Linked DNA regions of Homo sapiens: all the other regions are reported to be linked to region 2. Evidence: microRNA targets listed by miRTarBase, many of them from high-throughput screens and not tested one by one. Region 2 holds a microRNA gene; each other region holds the end of a gene's coding sequence. Distances are from middle to middle.
What was found. The annotated mature microRNA hsa-miR-484 reads UCAGGCUCAGUCCCCUCCCGAU and lies in region 2 at 1,685-1,706, opposite strand. An mRNA with a match to its seed (bases 2 to 7 or 8) in the 3' UTR can be bound and repressed. Matches are read on the target gene's strand: a 7mer-m8 pairs with bases 2 to 8, a 7mer-A1 pairs with bases 2 to 7 and ends in A, and an 8mer does both.

Region 1 (5,076 bases), 43 Mb from region 2:
AGACTTGTCCTTGATTCACTGTACATTTTATTTGTTACTATTAAGGATGAGAAATTTTCTCCTCCTCATTCAAAAGGATAATATCAAGAGTTAGCAAAACACACACACACACACACACACACACACACACACACACACACACACAGATTTAGCAACAGAATTCCAGCTTTCAGATACCTTTCCTTAGGTTTAGAACATTTACTTAATTATCTTTCAAACAACTGTTTCTATGTGTACTCAATATTAAAAATTTATCGGCCAGGCACAGTGGCTCATGCCTGTAATCCGAGCACTCTGGGACGACAAGGCAGGTGGACTGATTGAGCTCAGGAGTTTGAGACCAGACTGGACTACATACTGAGACCTCGTCTCTACAAAAAATACAAAAATTAGCCAGGCATGGTGGCACATGCCTGTAATCCCAGTTACTTGGGGGGCTGAGGTGGGAGGATTGTTTAAGCCTGGGAGGTCAAGGCTGCAGTGAGCTGTGATTGGGCCACTGCACTCCAGCTTGGGTGGCAAAGTGAGACCTTGTCTCAAAAATAAAATAAAATGACCTAAAAATCTGCCTTCACTAGATAAGGAATGTTTAAATTATATTTCTTAGACTAGTTCTTACAGTTGGCCTGGTGTGGTGGCTCATGCCTGTAATCCCAGCACTTTGGGAGGCCGAGGCGGGTGGATTACGAGGTCAGGAGATCGAGACCATCCTGGCTAACATGGTGAAACCTTGTCTCTATTAAAAATACAAAAATTAGCTGGACGTGGTGGCACACACCTGTAATCCCAGCTACTCAGGAGGCTGAAGCAGGAGAACTGCTTGAACCCGGAGGCAGAAGTTGCAGTGAGCTGGGATCGCGCCCCTGCACTCCAGCCTTGGTGACAGAGCAAGCTCTGTCTCAAAAAAAAAAAAAAAAAAAAAAAAAAAAAAAAAATTCTTACAGTTAAGCATCTACCTTACATTTTATAGATTTTTCTCCTGAACACAAAAATATCTGTTTGAGAAATATATATATGGCCTCTGCAGTTATTTTCTTTTGCCAAGCTCAGTTTAAAATATTACATTTTCACGTAGACACAATTGTTTCGAGCATAAAGAACAAAAGCTCTCTTGGGGCCGGGCGCGGTGGCTCACGCCTGTAATCCCAGCACTTTGGGAGGCCGAGGCGGGTGGATCACGAGGTCAGGAGATCGGGACCATCCTGGCTAACACGGTGAAACCCCGTCTCCACTAAAAATACAAAAAATTAGCAGGGTGGGGTGGCGGGCGCCTGTAGTCCCAGCTACTCGGGAGGCTGAGGCAGGAGAATGGCGTGAACCTGTGAGGCGGAGCTTGCAGTGAGCCGAGATCGCGCCACTGCACTCCAGCCTGGGCCACAGAGCGACTCCATCTCAAAAAAAAAAAAAAAAAGCTCTCTTGGGGTTTCTTGAAGGATGGGAGGGGGACAGAACAGACAGACACAGAGTGGAACTGACTGCTGTTTGAACTTGAGTCACTCAGTGCTTCTGCATGCCGGTTTCACTAGTTCAGGCACAGTATTCCAGAAACCTCGGGTTCAGAGGTGCTGAGAGGTTAGTGAGAAGCTCTGTAAGATGCTCAGAATTCTTAGGGAGAAGGTGGACTTTTTATTTAAAATAAGAAACAAATTATTTCTGCCATGCAAGCAATAAAGAAATTCAACATCAGATTAGCAGGGTAAAGATGACTTTTTTTTTTTTTTTTTGAGACAGAGTCTTGCTCTGTCACCAAGGCTGGAGTGCAGAGGTGTGATCTCAGCTCACTGCAACCTCTGTCCCCTGGGTTCAAGTGATTTCCTGCCTCAGCCTCCCGAGTAGCTGGGATTACAGGCGCCCACCATCATGCCTGGTTAATTTTTGTATTTCCAGTAGAGACAGGTTTCACTGTTGGCCCTTCTGGTCTCAAACTTCTGACCTCAAGTTATCCACCTGCCTCGACCTCCCGAAGTGCTGGGATTACAGGCATGAGCCACCGCACCGGGCCCAAAGATTAGTTTTTAACAAAGTGTGCTGGGATAACTGACTATCCTTTTTCTCTGAGATGGGAGGGTCTTGAGCAGAGAATCGACAAGATTGGATATACTTCTTAACAAGAGCACTCTGGCTGCTATGGTGAGAAGAGTCTGAAGATGGAGTGGAGGGTGAATGCAGGGAGGCAGTTAGGGGGTGATCCCAAAACTCCAGGAAAGAAACGGTAGGGGCCTGGCCCGAGTGACAGCACCACAGGTGATGGGGAGGTGGCCGGATGCTGCAAATGATTTGACGGCAGACCCAAAAGATATGGAGCGTGAGAGGAGGAAGGTCAGGGGGGGACATAGCGTTTTTGTTCTAAGCAATAGGGAAGGATGGAGTTGTAAAAAATGGAGATGGGAAACATCAGAGGAGGAGCAGGCCGTGGAGACGTAGAAACATCAAGCAGGGGATTGGATACAAGTCTGGAGTTGGAGGGAGCGATCTGAGCTGGAGATAGGAATTTGGGAGCCATCTGCGTGGAGATGGAGAGGCATGGACAGCCCAGAGCCACCCAAATCCAGAGGTCACGAACAGCAGGAGGAATCAACAGTGACAGAGCCTTGCCCCACTGCTCCTGGCAGCCCACACTGTCCCTGGGAAAAACCTATATATACTGAGGTCTTCTGTCTGTAAGGCCACAGTCATGTGGGAACAGAGTGCTTCAGGGGAAAGGGCACAGCTTTACTCCCTGGAGTTTGATAGCAATTTGGTATTTGAGCCCATTTGTTGTGTTTTTTGAAAAATTAACCTCTTGAAGGGACCAAATCAAAATCTAAACGACTAACTGGAGGGCTGCTGGGGAGAGGGGAAGTCCGACAGGCTTGAAGGCAGATCTGTAATTGAAAATGAGTTCAAAAGCTACATGTAATATAATCTGTTCAAAATGTAAAATAGGGGCTAAGTTTTGGACATGAATACCTACATATTCCTGACACATGGCCCCTGAGGAATTTCTTTTTTTTAGGAAGTAGGAAAAAATGGCAGCAGACTTAGAGTTGACTTTAAATATAAAGCTATGTGTGAAAAGAATGATGCCAAAAGTTAAATAATATGCTTTTCTCGCTCTATGAATGGTTTCTCGGGCCCTGGCTATATATAAATGCTGCGGTAGTAATGGAAATCTCATCTTCCTAGGACACAGCACCCTCCTACAGAGAATGTACCTCCTATTTATGTGTACCACACAAGCAAAAGAGCAGCTGCTAAAACATGGATTTGTGTATTACCGTCAAATATGATCAAAGACACAATTCTGATAGCTTTGATTATCTGTAGTACTAGTGAAAGAGCACTTGTACAGAACATATTCATGTACAAAGCCAATCATTTATTTAGCACTAAAATCAAATTATAAAAACAACAATTCCATCTTAAAACAGGCATTTTAAAAGCATTTCTGTGGTTCTAAGTTTGCATCAAGACAGCCTAAGTTTGCATCTGCACAATCTGGATACCCAAATCCCTCTATAATTTCCAAAGACAAAGACAATTTTTGCTAGTTGTGAGGTGTCAGGGGGAAGCAGTGATGCCCTGCAAACAGTCTAATGGGCCCAGGGAACCCTGTTTCTTTCTCAACCTGAGGTTGCATCCTTGATCTCCAGGAAAAGAGATTAGTGCTTGCTTAACCAGGTTCCTAGTAAATGGTCAGGGATCTTCTATGCAATAATGTTGCAAAAGTTACTGAAGAGGAAAAAAAAAGCACAACGGAGGCTTCTTGCCCATTTACACTTGCAATGTTAGATTTTGAAAACAGGGCCCTTCATAGTCAGCACCCAAGTCCTGACTTCCAGATGTAATGCAGGCTGGTTAACAGCCCTTAATAACTACATTGCAATTCCAAACGACTCCCTGACAGCTTTTCTAGACAGGGAGTAGAATTAAGTGTGCGGGTGCTCTTAGGCTCTCCGAGGCAATAACAAGCTCAGTTTAACCATTTCCCTTCTGGGTTGACTGCTGAGTTATGCAGATTCCAGTTCATTAAGCCCTGAGTATAGAGTATGAGGCCAACATCTTTTCTTTAGTAAAAGCCATGCCATTCGTCTGCCTTTCCCTTTTCCTCCTTTATCTGGGCGACTGTTTTTGGAAACTGGGGTAACTCCCTGCAGGCAGGCAGCAGGAGATATCTCCAAGTCAGGCTGGCATGGTGGGGTGCTATCCTCTGTACAACCATGAGGAAGATGAGGCAAATAAGATCAAGAGAGCATTTTGTGAACAGGCGATGACCCAGTTTGTACCTGTGCTTTGTGGCTAGTGAAACTGTACATCTGAAGCTGTCCAAACTCCCAGACACAAGGAATCTCAGTTGCAACTCTACTGTGATATATTATATGGCAGTGATTCTTATTTAGGAAGGACTTTGATTTCTCCTTGGCCATGGGTTCTTGGGTTAAAGGGCCTGGGCTGTGGGTCAGCAGGGTGGGACGGTCCTGGAAGACTCACAGAGCCAGGGACACCCACATCCTCCAGCATGTCCAGTTCCCTATAATTCTCTATGGCCACAGGAAATAAGCCATGAAATGGGACAGGATTCTGGTTCTGTACAAGGTCAACCAGCTCCTATCAAGGACACACGGAGGGATACGTCTGTGAGGAGCCATTCTGTGTTCTTCCGGCTTTCAGTCTTCCATATCAGTGAATTTTCTCTTCTTGTAATTCTGAACGAGGTTGGAAGCTGTGATCTGAGAAGCCTGCCCCTTCTCCCAACACTGAAAGTCATTCAGTCCTTTCTGCCCTGTTTGAAATAAGCCCCTCTCCATCTCGTCTAGCCTGGCTACCAGGGCTGAAGTGTCTTCGTTGTAAGCATTCTGTGAGGAGTCCATGATGCGGCGAAAACGTCCGATAAAAGTCTGGGAAACAAGGGAGTAAGACAAGTCAGGGTTGACCTCACACCCCACAAAGTCATATCCATTTTTATCTCAGAACATTTAAATGGCATGAAAAGAAAGAATGATGTGTAGGACTCAGAAGGAGGTCTGAATTCCCTCTAGCACCCAAGTAAGTTATTGCACATTGCCATGCCTCAATTTCCTCATCTGTGAAGTGGAT
Region 2 (5,089 bases):
TGGAGGCTGCAGTGAGCCAAGATCCTGCCACTGCACTCCAGCCTGGGCAATGAAGCAAGACTTTGTCTCAAAAAAAAAAAAAAAAAAAGTAAAAAGGAAATGTGTCTGCATTCTTTGATGTTTTCTGGCTAAAAACTATTTTTTAAAAAAAGCAATTAGAAACCTACAATTACCTTGTTTCTTAAGATTTTTAGTTAATATGGCTTGTGTTGAAACATACTCAACTGAAATAAAATGGGGAAAAAACACCTCTGAAGAGTAGCGTATTTGTTTGGTACTTTGAAAAAAGCCAAAACGCTAGAAACGGGTTTTTCATCTATTCTAATCTCCACTTGGAAAATACTACCTATACACAGACATAATGAAGATTTTTTTCTTTTTCTTTCTTTTCTAAATAGTGATAGGGTTTCACCGTTTCCCAGTCTAGTCTCAAATTTGTAGGCTCAAGAGATCCTCCCTCCGTAGCCTCTCAAAGTATTGGGAATACAGGCCTGAGCCACTGCGCCCAGCCCACAGTCAAGATTTAGTCAGCAGTAATAAATACCTACGCAGGGAGAGGATGTGTGCTTGTCATCTGCCTTCTGGAAAATTAAATACAGGCACAAAGGATTCTTCAGCTACATGTCTGATCCTGCCCTCCACAATACCCGTCTACAGGGATGTTTACAGGGATGTGTTAATCCCCACGTAATGGGGATTGCCTATTGAAATAACCTCCCAGTAAGGATTTTTTTGGGCAAAATATTCTCGTTTGGCAATTTCGACTTACTGATTCTTTTGCAAAGTCAACTTGTTTCTGGGCAAACTTTAAAAATAAACTCCTAAGGTAGCATTTAGCTAGCAGCTAGCACATCCTAAATCGTGTCTAGATTTAACTTACACAATATGTGCTTTGCTTTTTTCCTAATTTGCAACAGAAAATAGTAATCAGCTGGTAGTTTCAGAAATCACCCTTTTGCTGAGTCTTAAATTTTTTTTTATTCCAGGGAAACGTGAAGATTGTGGGGCGCTATTTTTTTTTTTAAAGCAAACCACACAGCATATCTGGCCACCTAAAACACAAAGTGTTTGAAACTAACCGTAAGATTTCCTTTCTGCTCGCCCAACCTGTCACTGGAAACGCAGTATTCATTTGTAACCAGCTTTGGAGCAGGGCTTTTAAAAATAACGTTTTCTTGCTAAAGTCCCCAAAAATCTCTTGATTCTTGGTGGCAATGTCCAGTTGAGTCTTTGCACACACTGTATTTTTGCCAACTGGGTCGCAACTTTGCGAGAACTCCGGGGGACCTCGTAGGAAGCCAGGTTGGCAGTTATTTTTTTCTCCACTTGCCACTAGGTTGCACTAGATTTAGGATGCTGGGGAATATGCGCCATTTAATTTTTAAAAATAAAGTAGGACCATCACGTGACGAGACCCGAGAGAGGAAAAAAAAAAAGCCGAAGGGACAGGGTTTTTCATTGAAATCCCGTTCAAATCGCCTTCCCTCCAAAGCCTGAAAGAGCTGAATTCTATTAAATCCTGGTTGGCAGGTTTTTTCCTCGGGTCCACGTCACGAGCTCATTCTCCGCTTCAAGGTTCCTTTCGACTCCACAACGTGAAGCCAGGGGGAAGGCCTCCTTAAACTGGGGGTTTTCGCCAAAAAAGCCAGGGTCACCCCCCGGGAAAGTCCCTATTTAGGGGTTTATCGGGAGGGGACTGAGCCTGACGAGGCTGCAGGGCCGCGAGGCCCCGCCCCCCCCGGGGTTCCCAGCATGCCCCGCGCGGACAGGACGCGGCGGCGGAGGCGGGGCGAGGAAGGGGCGGGGCGAAGAGGAGAGAAGGGCGTCGGTTTTGCGACAGGGGCGGTGCGGTGCGGAAGCGGAAGTGAAGGGTGCGCTTGGCGGCGGCGGCGGGAGCTGCGGAGTCGGGAATCAAAACAAAGGGCCTGGGGGGGGCGGGGGGAAGGCGGCGGGGCCGGAATGTGAGCGGAGGTGGAGCCGGCGGCAGAGGTGAGTTTGCAGACAGTCCTGCGACCAGACCCCGGCAGGCTCTGCTCCGAGGCCAGCGGGGCGGGACGGAGGACAGTGTCCCCTCTTTCCCCGCCTATTGCTGGTGGGATGGTGGTGGAGAGGGGAGGTTAGCTAACTGGGACGCGCCAGTTGGGCCCCCCACGAAAGAGTTGGCTTGTCTCCCTTTCGGGTCCATTCACTACTGTCACTGTTGGCGCCGCTGTTCCCCTTCGAGGGCATTTGGCTCCCCGCCCGCCCCTGTCTGACCCCTGGTGGGGCCCTCCAGGAGTGAAGTGCACAGCTGGAAGGTTAAGAGAGAAGGAAAGGGGCGGGTGTTTTTGCAACACACTCCCCCCTCCCCGGCCGTTTTGCATTCTCCTCGGCCTTTTAGCAACACATAGGGTGTAGTCTCAGGGTTGACAATGTCTAGGGCTTCAGCCACTCTCACTAGTAGTTGTAACGCGACCTCGTGATACACCTTTTAGAGTTTCTCAAGCACCTTTCCGGTATTACCAAGAGCTGTCCAATTGCATTTGTGTCTTTTGGACTTCTCTGAGCGGTAAATATTCTTCTCTTTTGCATATCGGTGTATTGAAACCTAAACTGTTTTCCTATTTATTAAGCTTTATTCGTTCAACAGTTATTTATTAAAATATGCCAGGCATTGTACTAAGGACAGGAGTTGGAATAGTGGATAAGAAAACATAGTCTCTGCTGTCATGGAGTTTATAGCCTAATGGGGGAGAAAGATAATAAAATAAGCTAAAAAGGCCGTTTTGGACAGAAGAGCTATGGGGGAGAAAACGGTAATGGGATGGGGTGGTGTGGGGTCAAAGACTAGATTGGGTGCTAAGGAAACAACATTTGCTAAATGTTCCCCGTGGATTACCTCATGTAATCCAAACAACGGCCTTGTAAGGTGGTTTCTATTATTATCACACCCATTTTAGAGATGGGATCTGAGGTTCAGAGAGGTTGTGAGTTGTCCAAAGCTGCACCGCAGTCAAATTGGAGACCAAAATGCAGACAGTCGACAGAGCCTATGCTCTCCTCATTGAATTGGTCAAAAGACTTGAAGAGAGTGACAGAAAGGAGACTGTCGCTCAAGTCAAACAGAACCTGCTTTTGGCTACCTAAGTTGCTTCGTGGATGGTATTTGGGAAGTTTTCAGGGTGCAGGCACCTGAAAGTTTTTACTTTTAATCGCTTGTATTGAGCAGTATTGAAGGCACCTTGATGTAGTGGAAAGGGGTGAACAAGCCTAATCTTGTGTCAGGCTCGCTACAAAACTTCATTAAGTTTCTTTTTCTCTCTCTGCAAAAATGTAGCTAATTTCTCCCCTGTCTATTTCACAGGATTATTGCAAAAATTATATAAGAGGATCCCACCGTCTGGGTTTTTTTCATCATTATATTCCTTGTGCCAAGCACAGGCCTGCTGCATAGTAGATACTAAGTAAATATTTGCTGAATGAAGACATAAGTAATGTTAAGTGAAAATACTTTATAAACTAGATTATACTGTGAATGTTAGCTCACTTTCAGGATTTGGCTTTGAAGAAGTTTGAGAGAATGTTTAAGTTATGAACACTGTGAATATCACAGATTCTTACGATTTTGAGAGGAGTTTTTTGGGGGACATAAAACCTGTATCTAATAGGAAAGACAAGAATCGTAATTTACTATCAGTGGTAGCAGTTAAATCCATCTCCAAATTAACCACTCCCAATAGTGTGTAGTAGGTAATGTTTACTTTGTATTTACAGAGTAGGGAGCATTTTGGTTGGCACAAGAGATACAGTGGTGAAAATAGACAGTGGGGTTCATTTATCTAATTTTTTTTTTCTCTGTAATGCAGTGGCGGGGAGAAATTAGCCACATTTTGCATAGGAGGAAACAGAAACTTGAAAACAAAAATTTTTTTAGAGATGGAATCTCACTCTGTTGCCCACGCTGAAGGGCCAGTGGCACAATATAGTTCACTGTAGCCTCAAATTCTTGGGCTCAAGAGATCCTCCTACCTCAGTCTCTCTAGTAGCTGGGACTAGGCGCATGCTGCCACACTATGCTAATTTTTTGAACTTTATTTTATTTTAGAGCTGTGATCTTGCTATATTGCCCAGGCTGACAAAAGAGCCACGTAGTAAATATAGGCTTTGTGGGCCATACAGTCTCTTTGCAGAGACTCTCTTTGCAACTCTGCAATTGGAATGCAAAAGCAGTCATAGGCAGTATTTAAGTGAATGAGTGTGTCTGTGTCCCAATTAAACTTTATTTATGGACACTGACATTTTAATTTCATGTAATTTTGTTTGTTGGTTTTTGAGACAGGGTCTCACTCCGTCGCCCAGGCTGCAGTGCAGTGGTGCAATCACAGCTCACTGCAGCCTTGACTACGCAGTCTTAGGTGATTCTTCCACCATAGCCTCCTGAGTAGATGGGGCTACAGGCATGCACCACCACGCTCAGCTAATTTTTTGTAGCCATGGGGTTTTGCCATGTTGCCCAGGCTGGTTGGGAACTCCTGGGCTCAAGCAATCCACCCACCTTGGCCTCCCAAAGTGCTGGGATTGCAGGCCTGAGCCACGGTGCCTCGCTTGCATTTATTGTTAAGACCTGTAAGAGTGTTGTTGCTCTGGCGTAGATATAACACATCTGCGACTTGAGATTTTTCTATCAGTTAGATTTTTGGTGGTATATCAGATTGCACTTTCATCATTAGTAAACTAAGAAATTGGTTCAATTTGTTCTGTAGCAAATCAAATTCAAAGTCCACAGAGGCCACTTAGTTTGGACTTTTCATGCTCAGATCAAGAAACCAGTGCAAGAAGTTGCTCTTAAGTCAATTTTAAAATCTTACATATAGTTGTCAATGAGGATGTGGTGGTGGCTCTTTTACTCAGATTAGATGCTCTCTTCTGTTAACTTTTGACTTTCCTGAGCAGCATCTTTAGGGAGAGAGAGCCGAAAAGAATTCAGAAAAACTGTAGAAAAAATTGATTCCAGCCAAGTGAGGAGGTGAAGTCTCACTCTGGAATATGCAAGTTTCCAAGATATGGCTACCTCTCTCAAACATGGTTACATGTGGAAAGGAAACAAGAC
Region 3 (5,080 bases), not on the chromosome of region 2:
TGGGGGTCACGTGGCATGTCAGGCCTTAAGCACAGGCCTGGTTGGGTTTGGGGGGTCTGCAGTGGTGGGGGACCCTGGGGGACCAGGGGCTCATTCTCCCCCCCACCTTGCCTGCAGCCCAACTGCTATGCCAAGGTGATCACGGTGGAGTCACAGAAGAAGATAGTCATCTACTCGAAGCAGCACATTAACGTCAATGAGGAGATTACCTATGACTATAAGTTCCCCATCGAGGACGTCAAGATCCCCTGCCTCTGTGGCTCCGAGAACTGCCGGGGGACCCTCAACTAGGCCCCGGCACCAGACTCAAAGGATGTCAGCCGTAGCCCTGGGACTCCCGAGCGTGGAGCCCCTGGCCCCGGGGCCCGGCCCCCCGCGCCCGCCCCCATTTCAGGTGCTGTCCTCTACCCAGCGGCCATTCAGGGCCTGGCGCCCCACACTACCCCCTGGAGCCCCTGGCTCCGGCCCCTCCGCGGGAAAGGGCTTCTCTGTCGTTCAGCCCACGTCTCTCTCATTTTAACAAACGCCCCTTTCAGGATTTCTGTTTAACTCCAGCATCAGCTTCTCTCTCTCCGTCTCTCCTCCCCTCTCTCTCTTCTCTGTCTCTTCTCTCTCCCACCATCACCCTCGGCCTCTTCCTGTGAATGCTGCTACGTTGTTTTGTCTTCTCTATTTTTTTCCTCGTTGTGAGAAAAGACATTTAACCGTTGAAATGTGAAGGTGGAATCAGAGAGGGGCCCCGCGGGGGTCTGCAGAGGCCTCAGTGTGGCTGTGCGTGGCCCGTGTCCTGGAAGCCACCCGGACCTGGACGCAGGGCCAGGTGCTGTGGGAAGGATGGAGGCCCCCACGGCCTTGACCTCAGAACACTACGCCCTGAAAGCGCCCCTCACTGCCCGTGGGCACAGTGAGGAGACCCCACACCTTTCCCCACCCGAGCTGCAGCCTGTTCCTTCCCCAGAGGCCTGGGGCACCACTGACCCGGTGGACCCTGATGGAGCTAAGCTGTCCCAGGCAGGGGTCTCCGCTCTGGGCTTTCCCTGCCACCTCACACCCCAGCACCCCCTAAACCTTGGGTTCAATGTTTACTTTCTCATTCGGATGCCAGCAACGCGGGAGCCTCTCGGAGGCCCCAGTGCAGGTGAGGGGCGCTGAGAACGCGGGCAGCCACTCTCTTCTGCCCTTGCCTTCGCCCTGGGTGGGACAGGGCTCCCAAGGGCAGGCGGGTCCCCCAGTCCCGCCATTACGGGTTGTCAGACCGTCTGCGTGTGGCATTTTTTGGCTTATAAGCTTCACCCACTCACCCCCAACCCACACCCCACATCCCCCTGCCGGCAGCCCCTCAACCTAAGAAGGCCAGAGCATATTTATTTTCGGAGGGAGCAGATTACTTCTCCCAGAGAAAGGAAAATCTTGGAAAAGATTTAAAAACACAAATCTAAGCCTTGACGGTTTTTTTTTCCCTTTTGACCCCCTTCCCATCTCTTCAGAATTTATTCCCATGGCTTTTTTTTTTCTTGTGCGTGTATAAAATCAAAAGGAAGGGGAAAAAGGTTTTTGAAGTTCAGAACCAACTTCTGTATATAGAGGCTGCCGCAAAGGACTTTCTCTTGGGAACATTGTTTCTTGTAGAAACATGCGGGAAGACATTTTTTGCTCATTTCTTTGTACTTCCAAAAAAAAAGGAAAAAAAAGACAAAAGCAAGTCCCCCCGTACCCCAGAAAGCAGAGGAGGCGTGTAAATAATTTCTGGAAAGTGACTGTTGTGACCCGGAGTCCTCATCAAGATGAGCGCGCTCCATGAGGGAGCTGCTCCCACCCTGCGGACGCAGGCGGCCGGAGCCTCTGGTATCTCAGCTTGTGTCAAGCTTGTTATCATGTAAATTCTGTACAAAGAATTGTTATTTTTCTCTTTTTTGTTGTTGGTGGTTTTGTTGTGTGTTTTTTGTTGTTTTTTTTTTATTCCTTTCCCCCAGGCCCTCTCTATTTGAGACTGTGCCCGCCGGTTTCAAGATCAAGGAAATTGGTGGCAACAAGACACAGATGGGGTACCTGGGCACAGCGGCGAACTTCTCTTCCGTTTGCGGTTTTCTGCCTAATTGTGCAACTGAGGAAATAATTTATTTTTCACATGAGGAAATGCGTAGCTTGTAGAGACGGCTGATTCAAGTTACATGTACAGCCTCCAAAGGGCTGTCTCCATTCTGTCCCCTTCCCATAAAAGAAGTGGGGGTGTTCGAGAAGACCAGGGAAGGGACCCTTGCCTCACCCCTCCCCCTGGCCTCACCTTGCTCCCAGCCATCGTGCCCAGTGTTAACCTCGGCTGGCCTTCACTAAGGGGACTAGACCTCCCTCTCCCCAGGAGCCCCAGCCCCAGAGTGGTTTGCAATAATCAAGATATGTGTCGAGTCATTTTTCTTTCAACTCCCTCATTTTTCATTGAACAAATCTCTGCTTTTCAAGAGTTGGGGGTTTCTGCTATTTTTTGCTTTCTCTCCCTCCCCCTGCAAAGATGAGAACCAATGAGTTTTAGGGATGTTTGTGCGGGTAGACTCCATCATCCATATGTAACTTGTTTTGAAGAGAAGTGTTTCCGTTGTGTGTCTTGATGTAAATATTTGTTCATATTTTTGTGAATTCAATACTATGTACCATTGTATTATAGTAACTTTTATAAAGCAAACCATAAATATACTGACTTTTCTTACAGATACGCCGTCTCTCTTGCTCTCCTCTCTCCCTCTCCTCTTTATTCTTTCTTTCTGTTGGGAGCACATCCTGCTTCTGTGGAGGGTGGAGTGGTCCACTCAGACACTCAGATCAGCAGGGGTTTTTTTGTTTGTTTTTGAGACAGGGTCTCACTCTGTCACCTCAGGCTGGAGTGCAGTGGTGCAATCATGGCTCACTGCAGCCTTGACTTCCTGGGCTCAAGTGATCCTCCCACCTCAGCCTCCTGAGTAGCTGGGACTACAGGAGCACACCACCATGCCCAGCTAATTTTTAAGAAATTTTTCTGTAGAGACGGGGTCTCCCTATGTTGCCCAGGCTGGTTTCAAACTCCTGGGCTCAAGCAATCCTCCCACCTCAGCCTCCCAAAGTAGTGGGATTACAGATGTGAGCCACCGTGCCCAGCCTGAACTTGTAGGTGGGTTTTGTGAAATGGGCCAAATTATAGTCACCACTAGACCTTCCACAGCTTTTAAGTGTGATTTCTAGATTTTTTTCTTAAAACCTCAGGTTTCTGACTCATGAGGTCTGCAATGAAGGAAATAAGATCAGGTATCCTTTTACTATCACTAGAAGAACGTAGGTGGTTCCTCAGAAATGTTTAACACTTAAGGAGATGCCCCCCTGGTCTGCATTTGAGGGAGGAAAAAGGGCTGATAAAATAGTAGAAGTTGAGAAGAATTAAATCTATCCTGTATTCATGGCATTTCAGAGATGCTGTGCCCCAGTCAGTCTCAGCTCTGCTTGACCCAGTAGACGGGTGATAAAGGGCTTATAGTTGGCGTCCACGGTAAATGTCTCCAAGAAGACGTAAAACCTTAGCAAAAAGCAATATGCCTGAAAAGACGCTGTACGTCACTTCCTACTGGAGAAATGTGAATTATCCCAGGATGCCGTTTCCCCCTGTCAGGTTGGCAAATATTAAAAGGTGGAGGAAACCCAATTTGAGGGAGCAGGAGGCTGGGGTACTCTCGTGTGTCATTAGGGGAAGCCAAAAATCACTGCAACCTTTAGGAGGAAAAATACCTATTAGTAATCATTATTTAAAATGCACACGGCCGGCACGGTGGCTCACGCCTGTGATCCCAGCACTTTGGGAGGCCTAGGAGGGCAGATCACCTGAGGTCAGGAGTTCGAGCTAGCCTAGCCAACATGGTAAAACCCCATCTCTATTAAAAATACAAAAAAATTAGCCGAGTGTGGTGGTGCACGCCTGTAATCCCAGATACTTGGGAGGCTGAGGTGGGAGAATCGCTTGAACCCAGAAGGTGGAGGTTGCAGGGAGCCGAGATCATGCCACTGCACTCCAGCCTGGGCGACAGAGTGAGACCTCGTCTCAAAATAAAATGATCAAATGCACACAAAAGTCTTGGCTCCGTTGTTCCACTGTGAGGAATTGAGCCTGACAGATACAGTGGGCAACAATATGAAGAAGAGTGTTCTTCGCAGCCTCATTTCTGGTATCAACGAAACGAAGGGAGAGTAAATTGTCCGTTCACAGTGGGCTGCTTTTAGGAATTGTGCATCCAGACAGGTGGACACTCCCGTAAGTGGATTCATGGGAATAGAGGGCTGAGGTCCGGGCTGAGCCAGGAAAGAGAAGGAAGTGTCTGGCCATTAATTCAATCAACCAATATTTATTGAGCACCTTGTATGTGCCAGGTACTCTTCTAGGCTCTGGGGATAGGAATGAAGGAAACATACTGTTCTTGAGGGCGAGCCAGACAAATGTGAAAAGTAAGTGCAATAGTAAGGAGGAATAAAGCTAAGAGAAGGGGGTGTAGCTGAAGGAATATACAATTTTACCTTTATTATTTATTTTAGAGACAAGGTCTAGTTCTGTCACCCAGGCTGGAGTGCAGTGGCATGATCATAGCTCACTGCAGCCTCGATCTGCTGAGCTCAATGATCCCCCCACTTCAACCTCCTAAGCTGATCAGGGCCATAGGCACACTTTACCATACCAGCTAATTTTAAAAATTTCTTTTCTTTTTTTTTTTCTTGAGACAGAGTTTTGCTCTTGTTGCCCAGGCTAGAGTGCAATGGTACAATCTCGGCTCACTGCAACCTCCACCTGCCGAGTTCAAGCAATTCTCCTGCCTCAGCTTCCTGAGTAGGGATTACAGGGATTACTAGGATTACAGGCATGTGCCACCAAGCCCAGCTAATTTTGTATTTTTAGTAGAGATGGGATTTCTCCATGTTAAGCATGCTGGTCTCGAACTCCTGACCTCAGGGGATGTGCCCTCCTCGGCCTCCCAAAGTGCTGGGATTATAGGTGTAAGCCACCGCGCCAGGGCTTTTTCTTTCTTTCTTTTCTTTCTTTCTTTCTTTCTTTCTTTCTTTCTTTCTTTCT
Region 4 (5,089 bases), not on the chromosome of region 2:
GGGGAAGAAGATTCAGGGAATCTTTTTTTAATCCATTGACACTTTGTATAGAGGTGAGGTAATACATGAGAAAACTGTGTTTTAGAATCAGAACTAAGAAGATAAGCCACTTCAGTTATATTTTATATTTTATTTTACATTTTATTTACAGTTTATATTTTATCAAATTATTGGTAGCCTCTCAAGAATATTTTGTCCTAAAAGCACTAATCGAATGTAATATAGTCATAATTTTATATGTATTATTTATATAATATTACTGTCTAAAGTAAAATAGATGAAACTAAGTATGTGATTCAAAAAAATGATTCATTTTGAAAATTAATGTAAATTTGATTTTTTTGTGTGTGACCCTGTTTGGAGATGGAGTCTTTATTTTTTATATTATTTTATTTATATATATTTTTTGAGACAGTGTCTCACTCTGTTGCCCAGGCTGGAGTGCAATGGTGTGATCTCAGCTCACTGCAACCTCCGTCTCCTGGGTTCAAGTAATTCTCCTGCCTCAGCCTCCTGGGTAGCTGGGATTACAGGTGCCCGCCACCACGCCTGGCTGATTTTTGTATTTTTAGTAGAGACGGGGTTTTGCCATGTTGGCCAGGCTGGTCTTGAACTCCTGAACTCAAGTGATCTGCCCGCCTCGACCTCCCAAAGTGCTGGGATTACAGATGTGAGCCACCGCGCCCCGCCAAATTTGATTATTTTTAATAAGAACTTAGCTGTATGGTATTTTAACAGTACCTGCTTTTAAAATTATTATCATCTTTTTCCTTTACAGGTTTTTGATGAAGTTGTGCAGATTTTTGACAAGGAAGGCTAATTCTAAACCTGAAGGCATCCTTGAAATCATGCTTGAATATTGCTTTGATAGCTGCTATCATGACCCCTTTTTAAGGCAATTCTAATCTTTCATAACTACATCTCAATTAGTGGCTGGAAAGTACATGGTAAAACAAAGTAAATTTTTTTATGTTCTTTTTTTTGGTCACAGGAGTAGACAGTGAATTCAGGTTTAACTTCACCTTAGTTATGGTGCTCACCAAACGAAGGGTATCAGCTATTTTTTTTAAAATTCAAAAAGAATATCCCTTTTATAGTTTGTGCCTTCTGTGAGCAAAACTTTTTAGTACGCGTATATATCCCTCTAGTAATCACAACATTTTAGGATTTAGGGATACCCGCTTCCTCTTTTTCTTGCAAGTTTTAAATTTCCAACCTTAAGTGAATTTGTGGACCAAATTTCAAAGGAACTTTTTGTGTAGTCAGTTCTTGCACAATGTGTTTGGTAAACAAACTCAAAATGGATTCTTAGGAGCATTTTAGTGTTTATTAAATAACTGACCATTTGCTGTAGAAAGATGAGAAAACTTAAGCTTTGTTTTACTACAACTTGTACAAAGTTGTATGACAGGGCATATTCTTTGCTTCCAAGATTTGGGTTGGGGGCACTAGGGGTTCAGAGCCTGGCAGAATTGTCAGCTTTAGTCTGACATAATCTAAGGGTATGGGGCAAGGATCACATCTAATGCTTGTGTTCCTTATACTCTATTATATAGTGTTATTCATGATTCAGCTGATCTTAACAAAATTCGTAGCAGTGGAACCTTGAAATGCATGTGGCTAGATTTATGCTAAAATGATTCTCAGTTAGCATTTTAGTAACACTTCAAAGGTTTTTTTTTGTTTGTTTTCTAGACTTAATAAAAGCTTAGGATTAATTAGAAGAAGCAATCTAGTTAAATTTCCCATTTGTATTTTATTTTCTTGAATACTTTTTTCATAGTTATTTGTTTAAAAAGATTTAAAAATCATTGCACTTTGGTCAGAAAAATAATAAATATATCTTATAAATGTTTGATTCCCTTCCTTGCTATTTTTATTCAGTAGATTTTTGTTTGGCATCATGTTGAAGCACCGAAAGATAAATGATTTTTAAAAGGCTATAGAGTCCAAAGGAATATTCTTTTACACCAATTCTTCCTTTAAAAATCTCTGAGGAATTTGTTTTCGCCTTACTTTTTTTTCTTCTGTCACAATGCTAAGTGGTATCCGAGGTTCTTAATATGAGATTTAAAATCTTAAAATGTTTCTTATTTTCAGCACTTACATCATTTGGTACACAGGGTCAAATAGGGCAAATAATTTTGTCTTTGTATAATAGATTTGATATTTAAAGTCACTGGAAATAGGACAAGTTAATGGATGTTTTTATATTTTAATAGAATCATTTATTTCTATGTGTTATGAAATTCACTTAATGATAAATTTTTCAACATACTTGCCATTAGAAAACAAAGTATTGCTAAGTACTATAACATATTGGCCACTAAAATTCATATTGAGATTATCTTGGTTTCTTGGAAGAGATAGGAATGAGTTCTTATCTAGTGTTGCAGGCCAGCAAATACAGAGGTGGTTTAATCAAACAGCTCTAGTATGAAGCAAGAGTAAAGACTAAGGTTTCGAGAGCATTCCTACTCACATAAGTGAAGAAATCTGTCAGATAGGAATCTAAATATTTATAGTGAGATTGTGAAAGCAACCTTAAAGTTTTGAAGAAGACTGATGAGACTAGGTGCTTTGCTTCCTTTCATCAGGTATCTTTCTGTGGCATTTGAGAACAGAAACCAAGAAACATGGTAATTACTAAATTATGAGGCTTTGCTTTTTGTTTGCTTTTAAGTAGAAAAACATGTTGGCAACATTGAGTTTTGGAGTTGATTGAGATAATATGACTTAACTAGTTTTGTCATTCCATTTGTTAAAGATACAGTCACCAAGAATGTTTTGAGTTTTTTGAAAGACCCCAATTTAAGCCTTGCTTATTTTTAAATTATTTCCATTCAGTGATGTTGGATGTATATCAGTTATTTAGTAAATAATCTCAATAAATTTTGTGCTGTGGCCTTTGCTATTTGTTGGTTTAGATTTCTGTTCTCTAAGCATATTGAAGATCAAGAAGTATCCTATTTAACATGTGGGTCCTCACACTACAAAAGCAGAGTTCAGGACTGTCGATGCAAAGAGTCAAACTCTGTAAAATATTTGAAGAGATTTATTCTAAGCCAAATATGAGTGATGAGTGGCTTGTGACACAGCCCTTAGGAGATCCTGAGAACAAGTGCATACAGTGGTCGGTGTGCAGCTTGTTTTTATACATTTTAGGGAGACATGAGACATCAGACAATACATGTAAGATGTATACATGGTTCAGTCCAGAAAGGTGGGACAACTGGAAGCAGGTGTGGGGAAAGCTTCCAAGCCTTAGGCAGATTTAAAGATTTTCTGATTGGCAATTGGTTGAAAGAGTTACTATAAATAGAAAGGAACGTCTAGGTTGATACAAGGTTTGTTGGAGACCAAGGTTTTATCATGCAGATGAAGCCTTCAGGTAGCAGGCTTCAGAGAAAATAGACTGTAAATGCTTCTTATTAAGAGTGTGTTCTATCAGTAATTTCAAAAGGGAGGAGAAGTATAATGAGGCATGTCTGGCTCTCCCTTCCCCATGATGGCCTGAAACTGGTTTTTCAGATGAACTCTGGAATGCCCTTGGCCTAGAGGAAGGGTCCATTCAGATGGTTGTGGGGGCGCTTAGAATTTTATTTTTGCTTTACAGGATTGAGGAAAATTTTTCATCCTGTTTTTGTGTTTTGGCTTAAGCAGAAAGCATGATTTTATCCCGTTCCTTCAAGAAGTAATCTCCACTGAGACAAAAGCAGTCTATTTCATTACCTACCAGCAGCATCAATCACTTATCTCTTTTGGGGGAAGATGACAGTAAGCAATGTATATCAGGATGTGGGCTTTTTGTGGACTTTTGGCTTTACTCTTGTAATTTAAGTGGTTCACAAACATTCCAGTGGTCCCTGGAGATAATAGTGGCTGAAAGTACTGGCCAGATGAGGTCAGCATCTTCTCCCCGGAGGTTTGGTTGTCATCTTCAAACACATACTAATTGCACAAGCAAATAGTGCTACAAACACTTTTTCTGGCCGGGCGCGGTGGCTCATGCCTGTAATCCCCAGCACTTTGGGAGGCCGAGGCGGGTGGATCATGAGGTCAGGAGTTTGAGACCAGCCTGACCAACATGGTGAAACCCTGTCTCTACTAAAATTACAAAAAAGTAGCTGGGCATGGTGGTGGGCGCCTGTAGTCCCAGCTACTCAGGAGGCTGAGGCAGGAGAATGGCGTGAACCCGTGGGCGGAGCTTGCAGTGAGCTGAGACTGCGCCACTGCACACCAGCCTGGGCGACAGAGCGAGACTCCGTCTCAAACAAACAAAAAAAACAAAACAAAAAAATATATTTTCTGCCTTCCAGGAGGTGTTTTTTTTTTTTTTTTTTTTTTTTTTTTCCGAAAACATTCTGATATAGACCGACCTTCCAGTGTCTTCTGTTGGTTAACTTTAATCATTCTTATGTTTTCTATTTCAGTTCTCCCTAGCCCACCTGCATACTTCAGCTAAATTAAGTATTCGTTAATTATACACATTTATTTATTTCTTATTTTTTATTTTTTTTGAGACGGAGTCTCGCTCTGTCGCCCAGGCTGGAGGGCAGTGGCGCGATTTCGGCTCATTGCAACCTCCGCCTCCCGGGTTCACGCCATTCTCCTGCCTCAGCCCCCCGACTAGCTGGGACTACAGGCGCCCGCCACCACGCCCGGCTAATTTTTTGTATTTTTAGTAGAGTCAGGGTTTCACCGTGTTAGCCAGGATGGTCTCGATCTCCTGACCTCGTGATCCGTCCGCCTCGGCTTCCCAAAGTGCTGGGATTACAGGCGTGAGCCACCGCGCCCGGCCTAAACATTTATTTTTAATGAAAGAAAGGAAGCTCATTTATTTTGTACCAAAGAGAAAGGAAAACAATGATCCTAATCACTTACTCCTTTATTTCCTCATCCCTGAAGCCAGTGTAAATACTCTCTTGGATTCAGGTATGCTTTTCTTTGGCTGGGTGTAGTTACTGTGTTTGTGATGTTACTCTTGGACCTCAGATAAGCCTGGAAGGTCACCATCTTTCCTGTTGTGCAGAGAGCTGATGGACAAAGTTGAATTTCTGGCTGCCGCCATATACCTGATGTCAACTGT
Region 5 (5,000 bases), not on the chromosome of region 2:
GAACACTTTGGGAGGCAGATCACCTGAGGTTGGGAGTTGGAGACCAGCCTGAACAACATGGAGAAACCCTGTCTCTATTAAAAATACAAAATTAGCTGGGCATGGTGGTGCATGCCTGTAATCCCAGCTACTCGGGAGGCTGAGGCAGGAGAATCGCTTGAACCTGGGAGGCAGAGGTTGCGGTGAGTGGAGATCGCACCGTTGCACTCCAGCCTGTGCAACATGAGCGAAACTCCAGCTAAAAAAATAAATATATAAATAAATACATAAATAAATAAAACAAAATAAAATCTTTGGAGCAGTAGCTAGGCAAAGGGGCACTCAGGAGGCTCACACCAGAAGATCACTACTTGAGCCCAGGAGTCTGAGGCTATAGTGTACCACTATGGTCATACCTGTGTAAACAGGCACTGCACTCCAACCTGGGCAAGATAATTTGTGTTATCTGTGAGACCTTGTCTCTTTTTTTTTTTTTTTTTGAGGTGGAGTCTCACTTTCGTCCAGCCTGGAGTGTAGTGGCACAATCTCAGCTCACTGTAACCTCTGCCTCCTGGGTTCAAGCAATTCTCATGCCTCAGCTTCCCAAGTAGCTGAGACTACAGGCCCCCGCCACAACATTCCGCTAATTTTTGTATTTTTAGTAGAGATGGGGTTTCACCATGTTCACTAGGCTAATCTGGAACTCCTGACCTCAAGTGATCCCTGCCCTCGGCCTCCAAAGTACTGGGATTACAGGTGTAAGCCACCACACCTGGCCTCTTTTTGTTTGTTTCTTTTTGAGACAGGGTCTCGCTATGTTGCCCAGGCTGATCTTGAACCCTTGGGCTCAAGTGATCCTCACACCTCAGCCTCCCAAGTAGCTGGGTTTACAGGCATGTACCATTGCACCCAACTGAAACCCTTTCTCTTAAAAAAACAAAATTGTTGGAGCAGATATGCATGTGGGTTGACTTGGTGAGCATCAGGCAGGGCTTCTTCCTTTGGTGGGCCCCAAAGGCATAGGCGGTCAGGACACCTTTGACCCAGAAGATCATCCCTGTGGGTCTGTGACAGCAAATCCTACAAGAGCAAGGAGCCCCATGAAGCCACCCAGAACAGGACTGTCAGGACCACCAGAAAGAGAGATGCCTATTTCAGGTGAGTGATCTGCCAACCCAGCCCTTCTGTTTTTCAGTCTCGTTCTTCTATACCCCAGACAGGAACCTCCATGAGCCTGGATAAATAACACCCTTTTCAGGGATGGACATACCACCTCTTTCACTGATGGACCCATAAGAAGCCCTTCTCCTGTTCAGGCTTTTTCTATCCTATGGCCTCACTCCTCTTGCAGAATTAAGAGTGTGTGGCCGGGCGCAGTGGCTCACGCCTGTAATCCCAACACTTTGGGAGGCCGAGGTGGGTGGATCACCTGAGGTCAGGAATTCAAGACCAGCCTGGCCAACATGGTGAAACCCCATCTCTATTAAAAATACAAAAAAAAAAAAAAATAGCTGGGCCCGGTGGTGGGCACCTATAATCCCACCTACTTGGGAGGCTGAGGCAGGAGAATCCCTTGAACCCCGGAGGCGGAGGTTGCCATGACCTGAGATCACGCTACTGTACTCCAGCCTGGGCAACAAGACCAAAAATCTCTCAAAAAAAAAAAAAAAAGTGCTACAAATTTCACATGATTCAACATTGTCTTGTGTTTTATTCCTAAAACCCTTCCCCCATCTCTAAATCTAGTGTAATCTACATCCTAAAGACTGGGCCGTTCTCAGCTTTGGCAGTAGGACTTTATATCTTTGCATAAGTGACATTATGCCCACCATCTCCACCCAACTCCTTTATTATTTATATTTTCTTGCAGAGATGGGGTCTCACCATATTGCCCAGGCTAGTCTCAAACTCCTGGCAGTCCCACCACTTTGGCTTCCCAAAGTGCGGACGTTATAGGTGTGAGCCACCATGCCCAGCACTCTTTTTTATTAGAATTTTTGCACAGTACCTGGCCACAGGTAATTTCTCGTGCTTAGGTGCATCTTGATCCTCACAGTACCCTGGGATCCTTATTTTCCTCCTAAGCAGGATTGGCAGTGGGGGGCACTTTGCCATCCCCTCGAGAAGTGACTCTTACAGAACGGCTCCTCCTGGATGGCCCACCACCTCATTCACCAGAGACTCCTCAATTTCCCCCCACAACTGGAGCTGTACTGTACACTGTTAAGAGAAACCAGGTTGGGCCTGAGGTTCGCTCCTGCCCCAAGGCATCCCCCAGACTTCAGAAAGAGAGGGAGGGCCAAAAGGCAGTGAGTGAGTCAGAGGCTTTGATGCTGGTCTGGGATGCATCAGAAACTGAGAAATTGCCTGGTACCGTGGAACCCCCTGCTTCCTTCCTGAGTCCTGTTTCCTCAAAGACCAGAGATGCAGGGAGAAGACATGTGTCCGGGAAACCAGACACTCAAGAGAGATGGCTGCCCTCAAGCAGAGCTAGGGTGAAGACAAGAGACAGGACGTGCCCTGTCCATGAATCTCCATCAGGAATTGACACCTCAGAGACTTCTCCCAAAGCCCCTAGAGGGGGTTTGGCTAAAGACAGTGGAACACAGGGCAAGGGTCCAGAGGGGGAACAGCAGCCAAAGGCCACAGAAGCTACGGTGTGTGCCAATAACAGCAAGGTCAGCTCCACTGGGGAAAAGGTTGTCCTGTGGACAAGGTAGGTAAGGGTGGATGATGTGTGTTTGGAAAAGAGCATAGACCACATCCATGTGGCTCCCTAGGGTTAATCATGATACCTGGGTTACAGGGAAGCTGACCGTGTGATCCTCACCATGTGCCAGGAGCAAGGGGCACAGCCACAGACCTTCAGCATCATCTCCCAGCAGCTGGGAAATAAGACCCCTGCTGAGGTAGGTGCGGGTTGGGGTGAAGACCTGGCAAAAAGAGGTCAAGGTGGCCAACTAAGAGACAGAAAGGCCAAAGAAGGAGTTTTCATATCCAAGATAAGTGGTTTTTGTAAAGGTTTGATCTAAGGAAAGGCTTGACTCATCAGGGTGGTAGTGGTTCTAGGAGAAGAGAAAGGACACTGCATTTTTAGGTGGAAGCCCGTTTCCATTCTAGCTTTTTTTTTTTTTTTGAGCCAGAGTCTTGCTCTGTCGCCCAGGCTGGAGTGCAGTGGCATGATCGTGGCTCACTGCAACCTCCACGTCCCAGGTTCAAGCAATTCTCCTGCCTCAGCCTCTCGAGTGGCTGGGATTACAGGTGCCCACCACCCAGCCAATTTTTCTATTTTTAGTAGAGATAGGGCTTCACCATGTTGGCCAGGCTGGTCTCGAACTCCTGACCTCAAGTGATCTACCTGCCTCGGCCTCCCAAAGTGCTGGGATTACAGGTGTGAGCCACTGTGCCCGGCCATTCTAGTTTTGTTTTTAGGAGTCGTGTGACTTTGGGCAAAACATTTAGCCTCTTGAGTTTCCTTATCTATAGTGACATAGCTCTCTCAACCTTGCTGTGTGGAATAAACAAAAGATTTTGCAAATCAATATATAGTGCTTCATAAATGTTAACATGTTACTAAGGATCAGTGAATACAGCCCTCCTCCTTTCTTAGGTTTCCCACCATTTTCGAGAACTCATGCAGCTCTTCCACACTGCCTGTGAAGCCAGCTCTGAGGATGAGGATGATGCAACCAGTACCAGCAATGCAGACCAGCTGTCTGACCATGGGGACCTTCTGTCTGAAGAGGAGCTGGATGAATGAGACTCTGGGAATCATCTACACAGGACCAAACCCAACAGGCGCCCTGGCACCGGGGAGGCGGGTAGTTGTACTCTGCTTGTACAGTCCTTGAGCCCAGTTTACAGATCTGGAGAGCAGGAGGCCAGGACAAGGACAAAGGCTGGAGGATGGAGTAGGACCCAGGGGCTCTGCCATCCTAGGCATCATTCAAGGTCTTTTATGAAGACTTTACAGATGTCCTCTGTAAGTAGCATCGAGAGTGGAGTTCAGCTCCTTTCTCTACTTTTTTTTGGTCTGATGGCACATATTTATTGTTCTGTGGTCTAATCACAGTGTTTCTAAATGTAAAAAGTGCATATGTTGGTGTAGCTAGTCCCGCGACATTGAGCTCCTCTGCATGAAGACACTGGGCTCCTGCATCCAGCTGTTTTTATTGCAAACTAGCTCCTTTCTCCCACACTGGGAACTTTAGTCCACGAGGCTGTCACCACCCTGGTAGCACTGGGCCAGGCTTTGTAGCTCCTGCAGCAGCTCTGCTACGTCATCGTGCTCCACTCCAGCATCCATGAAGCTGGCCCAGCGCCGCAAGTCGAGTTTGGTGAGGTCTCTGGCCAAGGCTTCCAGGGTCTGGTGCAGGGACGAAGAGGAACACAGTGCCCCAAACACTGGGATGCTCTCCACTGCTGTGGAGGGAGAGGAAACAGAGACCTGTAGATGGATGATTATTCTGCCCTGGGACTCTGCCAAACTGATAAGGAAGTCCAACCTTAGTAGACTTGATTGTAAACTCAACAAATTTGGTGTATTGTCCCCTTAGTACACCAGTACTCCAGAGGAAGAATGCTTTTCTTGGGAGCCATAGGGTGAATAAAGGAATGTTTAACTGTGGACTTTTTCAGCACTTTTAATCCAGGAATGGAGATAGTAAAAACTCTCCCATACTTGAAATCTCAGTTTTCTTCACCTCCTACATACCTGCTCCCTTGGGGGAACCATCCAGAACCATACCCGGTGGACTGCAGCTTGAGAAGAGGTGGGGGTAAGGAGGAGCCACCCTGCAGGGAGTCAGCAGCAGATGGGAAGAACTGTGGGGGCAGAGAACAGCCATTAAGTGCGTAAGAAGTCAAGGGAGGGTTGCGGTTGGCAAGAAGGGCAGGAGCAACCGTTACACTGACCTCATGACTCCAGGCTGCTGCTGTTGTAAATACTGAGCCAAGATTTCTTCCCCAGTGGTACATGCATGAAGGGCAGAGGGTGGAGGTGTCCCTGGGGTGAGCTGGCT
Region 6 (5,089 bases), not on the chromosome of region 2:
AGAGAAGGAGCAACTGATCAACCTACAGAACTTCCTGACCACACAGTCTCCTTCCGTGAGGTCTTTGGCAGTTCCCACAATAATAGAGGAGCTGGAAGATGAAGAGGAGAGAGACCAAAGGCAGATGATAAAGGAAGCTTTTGCTGGGGATGATGTCATCAGAGATTTCTTGAAAGAGAAGAGGGAAGCTGTGGAGGCGAGTAAGCCAAAGGACGTGGACCTGACACTACCTGGCTGGGGCGAGTGGGGTGGTGTGGGCCTAAAGCCCAGTGCCAAGAAAAGACGCCAGTTTCTCATTAAAGCCCCTGAGGGTCCTCCAAGAAAAGATAAGAATTTGCCAAATGTGATTATCAGTGAGAAGCGCAACATCCACGCAGCAGCTCATCAGGTACAAGTGCTTCCATATCCATTTACCCACCATCGGCAATTTGAAAGGACCATCCAGACCCCTATAGGATCCACATGGAACACCCAGAGGGCTTTCCAAAAGCTGACTACTCCCAAGGTCGTCACCAAGCCAGGCCATATCATTAAGCCCATAAAAGCAGAGGATGTGGGCTACCAGTCTTCCTCAAGGTCAGACCTGCCTGTCATACAGAGGAATCCAAAACGAATCACCACACGTCACAATAAAGAAGAAAAACTGTAGGTTGTGTAGCTGGAGAAGTGACAGTCAGGGGCCCTGATTCCACTTCCTTTGGTCCAGTTTTACTCTGCTACAGGGTGGATTCCAAAACTGGCTCAGCACATTGCATGTAGTTGAGCCACATTTTTTAAAAAAAGAAAATGGATGACCATTAATTGACTAGCATTTTAGAATTGATCAGACATTAGAACACAGAAAAATTCTAGTACATTTAAATTCTAAACAATACAGTGGATGACCCTTTTGAATATACCTAATGATTTCCTTAAAAAAGAAATTTTAAACAGACTTGTTTAATCGTGTTCTCAAAGCATACAGTCAAGAGGTGGGACTGACTGATGCTTTATAGGTGTGTGTAGGGTGGTAGAGGCCAAGGTGCTGCCAGCAATCCTTTCCATACTAGGTACTGGTGAAAATTGTTTTTGTTTATGCTGTCAGCACATTTGTGTGGGTCTCTCATTGTCCCTTAACAGTGCCGCATCTCAGCCTGGAAGTCAGCTTTAAGTCATTCAAGAGAACCTCAGGCTGTTTTTCTGACAGTGATGATATGATATACAGATACATCCACAGGGTATCTATTACCAGCATAATGCATTGTAAGATGGCAAGGTGGCATTTTGAAAGAGCGCTGGGCAAGCAGTTAGCACATCTGGGCCTACCTTCAGCTTCTTCATTTACAAACTTCTGACCTTTTGACACTAAAGCTGCTCCTTTATCTTTCTGAGTCTCAGATTCTTCATCTGTAATCTGGAGTTGTTAATTCCAGTCCTTACTACCTTTTAGAGTTGGAATGAGATGGAAAGTAGATGAAACTACTTTGAAAATTACGACAGTTAAGGGCTGGGTGCGGTGTCTCACACCTGTAATCCCAGCACTTTGGGAGGCCGAGATGGGTGGATCATGAGGTCAGCAGTTGAGACCAGCCTGAACAACATGGTGAAACCCTGTCTGTACTAAAAATACAAAAAAATTAGCTGGGCCTGGTGGCAGGCACCTGTAATCCCAGCTACTTGGGAGACTGAGGCAGGAGAATTGCTTGAAACTGGAAGGCAGAGGTTGCAGTGAGCCAAGATTGTGCCACTGCACTCTAGCCTGGGCAATAAGCAAAACTCCATCTCAAAAAAGAAAAAAAGGAAAAAGAAAATTATGAGAGTTACTTAAAGGTAACATCACATACTAAATGTCTTCTATAATCCTATATTTATTAATGCATTACAACTCTGTAGATTGTTAGTTACTAGGCCAGTAGCTAGGAATTGGTATAAATTTAATGCACCTTCTATCCTGAATAACTAGCATGGAAAAGTGAATATATGTGTGAGCAGATATGGCTATAAAGACCTATAGCTTTTGCACTTTATGCATATATAATCAATCCTTTCTAGTTCAGTGAATTGACCCCATCCACAGGCTGATTCATCTTTGTGTTAAGGGGCAAATGAAACGGTATATTATTTCTTTGCAGTCTCCTCTCAGTCATTCATCAATGTGGCCAGCTTATCTACTCCCAATTATGTTGTTGATACATCTCCAAGCCATCTGTCATCAGATCAAAAAGCAGCAAACAGAGGGTCAGTCACAGGATGTTCTGACACACCATTGTAACTTTTTGTTAGAGATGATCCCATTTAGAAAAAGACTGGTAGAAATTGGAGTGAAAGGAACCCTACAGATTAGCCCAGTTCTCTCTTATTTTCAGCTTTACAGACAAGAACAATTTAAATCTAAAGAATTTAGTAGATTCCTTCAGTGTCACAAAGCTGTTTCATGAAAGAATCAAGATTATAACCTGGATATTCTGACTCCTGGCCCAGTGCTTTTTCTTACTTTGTAGCTACACTTTGAAGTAAGATTCAAACTGTTATCCACTCAATTGCCTTATTCCTGAGGATGTAGTGAAGGAAGAAAAAGTTTTCTGGAATTCCGTAAATTATATTTTAAGCTTATTTCTTCAAAATTATTTTCATATATCACAGATATATCATTGGAAGATATAATTTGCATATATGTTCATTATCAGTGTTCCTAATTTGGTATTACATGTATTCTATTTTTTTCTGAATGATAGCATGAAAAGTGTCAAAGTGGTTTGTCCGCTAGCGTCTGTCTGCAGAACTTTCAGGATGACTATTAATTCCTCTCAGATGTCATTTTTGAGTGGTCCAAGCCTGCTGTTTTGAACCCACAGCAGTGGAGATTTGTATTCTTATTTACAGTTGTGTACTATAAAGTGTGTGTTACATAGGTTTTGTGTAATAATTATTTGTAAATATTATTTAGATTTGTATTTAGACATGATTTATATCTAATATAGATACAAAGTCTGTGTCTAAATATTATTTAAAGAAGTGATTTTTCATTCTCTTGGATTCTTTCCAGTGTGGTGCCTTTTATATGCCTCACATAGTCTCCTTGTTCTCCTACTAATATTCCCAAGCTCCATATGCCAATTAAAGAAGAAACAAAAATAAAAGTTTGTCTTGCTTGTGAAACATTAAGAAGAGGCTGTCAGGTTTAATAAACTTTTTAATGAATATTTCAGACATAACAAAAAACTGCAGAGCTTCGTACACTTGATTTAAATAATTCTTGAGGGATTTTATAAGGTCATCTTATAGACAAAATTAAGAGACACCAGTGTGGTTATCAATGCTTTCAGAATACTTGTGTTTATGTAAATATACCCCAGAGTCCAAAACTCTGATATATTCATATATATTCACAATGAGAGGATGTCTGTGCCAAATCTGTCAATCAGTACAATAGAAAAGTTAATTATATAACTACAACACGAAACACAAATTTTTAGAAGCAAATTATGTCCTGTAATTTACCCCCCTCCCCGCTGCTCCTCTGCTAACTCATTTTCCTCTTTTCCCACTCTAAATGTAAGGCAACCCTTGGCTTTGGAGAAGCATCTGTTCCAATATTCTGGTGCTATGTGCTCAGTTGTACTATATGCAAATGTTACTAGACACAGAGGAGGTCAAAGTGTTGATACACTTATTGCTACCATTTACAGAATGATCAATTTGATAGCTATCATACATGGCTAGCAAGACACTGATTTTTCTAATAAAAAAATTTTTAATGCATACAGGTCTGGTGAACAGTTTCAATTTAACGGATGAGGCCAAGGCTAAAGCCAGAGTAAAGTAATCAGAGCCATGCCTCAGGAACACGATTTAGCTAATAGTGTGTGTAAAATGGGTAAGGTCTAGAATTAGGGACTAAAATCAGCTGAAAGTGTTGCAGATATGTATACTTATCACAGTGAATACTTCCAGTTTACAGCAAAGAATTCAAAATTGTTGAGTAAAGCTTGGTGACTATTACCTAAAATAGACTAGACTTTAGCCAAGCATCTTTTATCATGGGAACAAACCCGATAACCTGACATGCTTTTTTTTTTTTTTTTTTTTTTTGAGACAGGGTCTTTCTTACTCTGTCACTCAAGGTGGAGTGCAGTGATGTGATCACGGATTATGGCTCACTGTAGCCTCAACCTCCCAGGCTGAAACTAAAGTGATCCTCCCGCCTCAGCCTCCTGAAGAGCTGGGACCAGAGGTGCACACCAACACACCAGCTAATTCTTTTTTTTTTTTTTTTTTTTCTGAGGGGTGGATAGAGATGGGTGTTTCCCTATGTTGCCCAGGCTGGTCTCAAACTCCTGGGCTCAAGCGATCCTCCTGCCTCAGCCTCTCAAAGTGTTGGGATTACAGGCATGCGCCACCACACCTGGCGTGTTCATTTACCATCCTTAAACATTCTTTTTTTTCTTTTTTTTTTTTTTTTTTGCCCTTAATTGACTTGATCTTTGGATGTTTGAGGTTATTAGGGATCATGTTTCATTTCCCTTGCTTTCAAATACAGTTCAGAATAAGGATTACATGAAGTCACTAGCAGTTTTACTATGTCTGAACTAGTCCTGAAAGTAAATAAACATGCACATCCGGAGCACTAAAAGAGTTGCAGAATTAATGATACTCCAATCTCTCAGGCCATGTGTCAGTTGGAAACTAACACAATGGTGAGAACATTTTAAATATTTACAGCCTCATGATGTGAACAAACAGCATTCTCCCTAAAAGAGTAGACTGTAACTCTACACCAAGTTGAAAGAACAGTCTGTCAAACATCAGGAAATAGTCACAAAAAACTGGATGTACCTCAGGTGACTCCTAAGACTTGCATTCTCCACATTTAATGAAAATTATATGAAATGTAAATAGTAAACAGACCTTAGAAATAATCTGACCCACCTTACCTCATCTTTGTTTTCTCAGTTTAACAGTGTATCGGTGAGACATTTTACTTTTATTATAAAGCAGATATTTCAGGCAGAATTCTACCACCCTGAAATGTAACCACCCTCTCCTTCCTAAGCCCAGACATACTCCTTAGTATTTAAATAAACATCTGTTAAGCTCCAGGCCATGTTCA

Region 1: miRTarBase lists GINS3 as a target of hsa-miR-484. Seed matches in the 3' UTR shown: 7mer-A1 at 4,162-4,168.
Region 3: the mRNA of SETD1B is a reported target of hsa-miR-484. The part of its 3' UTR that is shown has no 7-base or 8-base seed match.
Region 4: the mRNA of CMPK1 is a reported target of hsa-miR-484. Seed matches in the 3' UTR shown: 7mer-m8 at 1,460-1,466.
Region 5: miRTarBase lists MSTO1 as a target of hsa-miR-484. The part of its 3' UTR that is shown has no 7-base or 8-base seed match.
Region 6: miRTarBase lists UTP14C as a target of hsa-miR-484. Seed matches in the 3' UTR shown: 7mer-A1 at 1,568-1,574.

Annotation. Positions count from the first base shown.
Region 1 is chr16:58,404,300-58,409,375 of GRCh38, reverse strand. GINS3 (GINS complex subunit 3) reads right to left here. Exons shown (of 3, transcript NM_022770.4): 3 at 3,229-4,877. The coding sequence ends at 4,647. Among named protein-coding and RNA genes, the nearest start is that of GINS3, 14 kb to the right of the region's middle.
Region 2 is chr16:15,639,918-15,645,006 of GRCh38, reverse strand. MIR484 (microRNA 484) reads right to left here and starts at 1,713; the gene lies at 1,635-1,713. MARF1 (meiosis regulator and mRNA stability factor 1) reads left to right here and starts at 1,853. Exons shown (of 27, transcript NM_014647.4): 1 at 1,853-1,989. It also overlaps a transcript of NDE1 not described here.
Region 3 is chr12:121,829,949-121,835,028 of GRCh38, forward strand. SETD1B (SET domain containing 1B, histone lysine methyltransferase) reads left to right here. Exons shown (of 17, transcript NM_001353345.2): 17 at 118-2,708. The coding sequence ends at 291. Among named protein-coding and RNA genes, the nearest start is that of TIALD, 24 kb to the right of the region's middle.
Region 4 is chr1:47,375,926-47,381,014 of GRCh38, forward strand. It overlaps CMPK1 (cytidine/uridine monophosphate kinase 1), which reads left to right. Exons shown (of 6, transcript NM_016308.3): 6 at 779-2,914. The coding sequence ends at 820. LINC01389 (long intergenic non-protein coding RNA 1389) reads right to left here. Exons shown (of 5, transcript NR_126355.1): 5 at 4,871-5,089. Among named protein-coding and RNA genes, the nearest start is that of FOXE3, 38 kb to the right of the region's middle.
Region 5 is chr1:155,613,460-155,618,459 of GRCh38, reverse strand. It overlaps MSTO1 (misato mitochondrial distribution and morphology regulator 1), which reads right to left. Exons shown (of 14, transcript NM_018116.4): 12 at 4,894-4,998; 13 at 4,694-4,803; 14 at 3,509-4,401. The coding sequence ends at 4,187. It also overlaps the pseudogene LOC100419798. Among named protein-coding and RNA genes, the nearest start is that of MSTO1, 5.7 kb to the right of the region's middle.
Region 6 is chr13:52,030,457-52,035,545 of GRCh38, forward strand. UTP14C (UTP14C small subunit processome component) reads left to right here. Exons shown (of 2, transcript NM_021645.6): 2 at 1-3,144. The coding sequence ends at 649. It overlaps ALG11 (ALG11 alpha-1,2-mannosyltransferase), which reads left to right. Exons shown (of 4, transcript NM_001004127.3): 4 at 1-3,144. NEK5 (NIMA related kinase 5) reads right to left here. Exons shown (of 24, transcript NM_001365552.1): 24 at 3,155-5,089. Among named protein-coding and RNA genes, the nearest start is that of UTP14C, 8.3 kb to the left of the region's middle.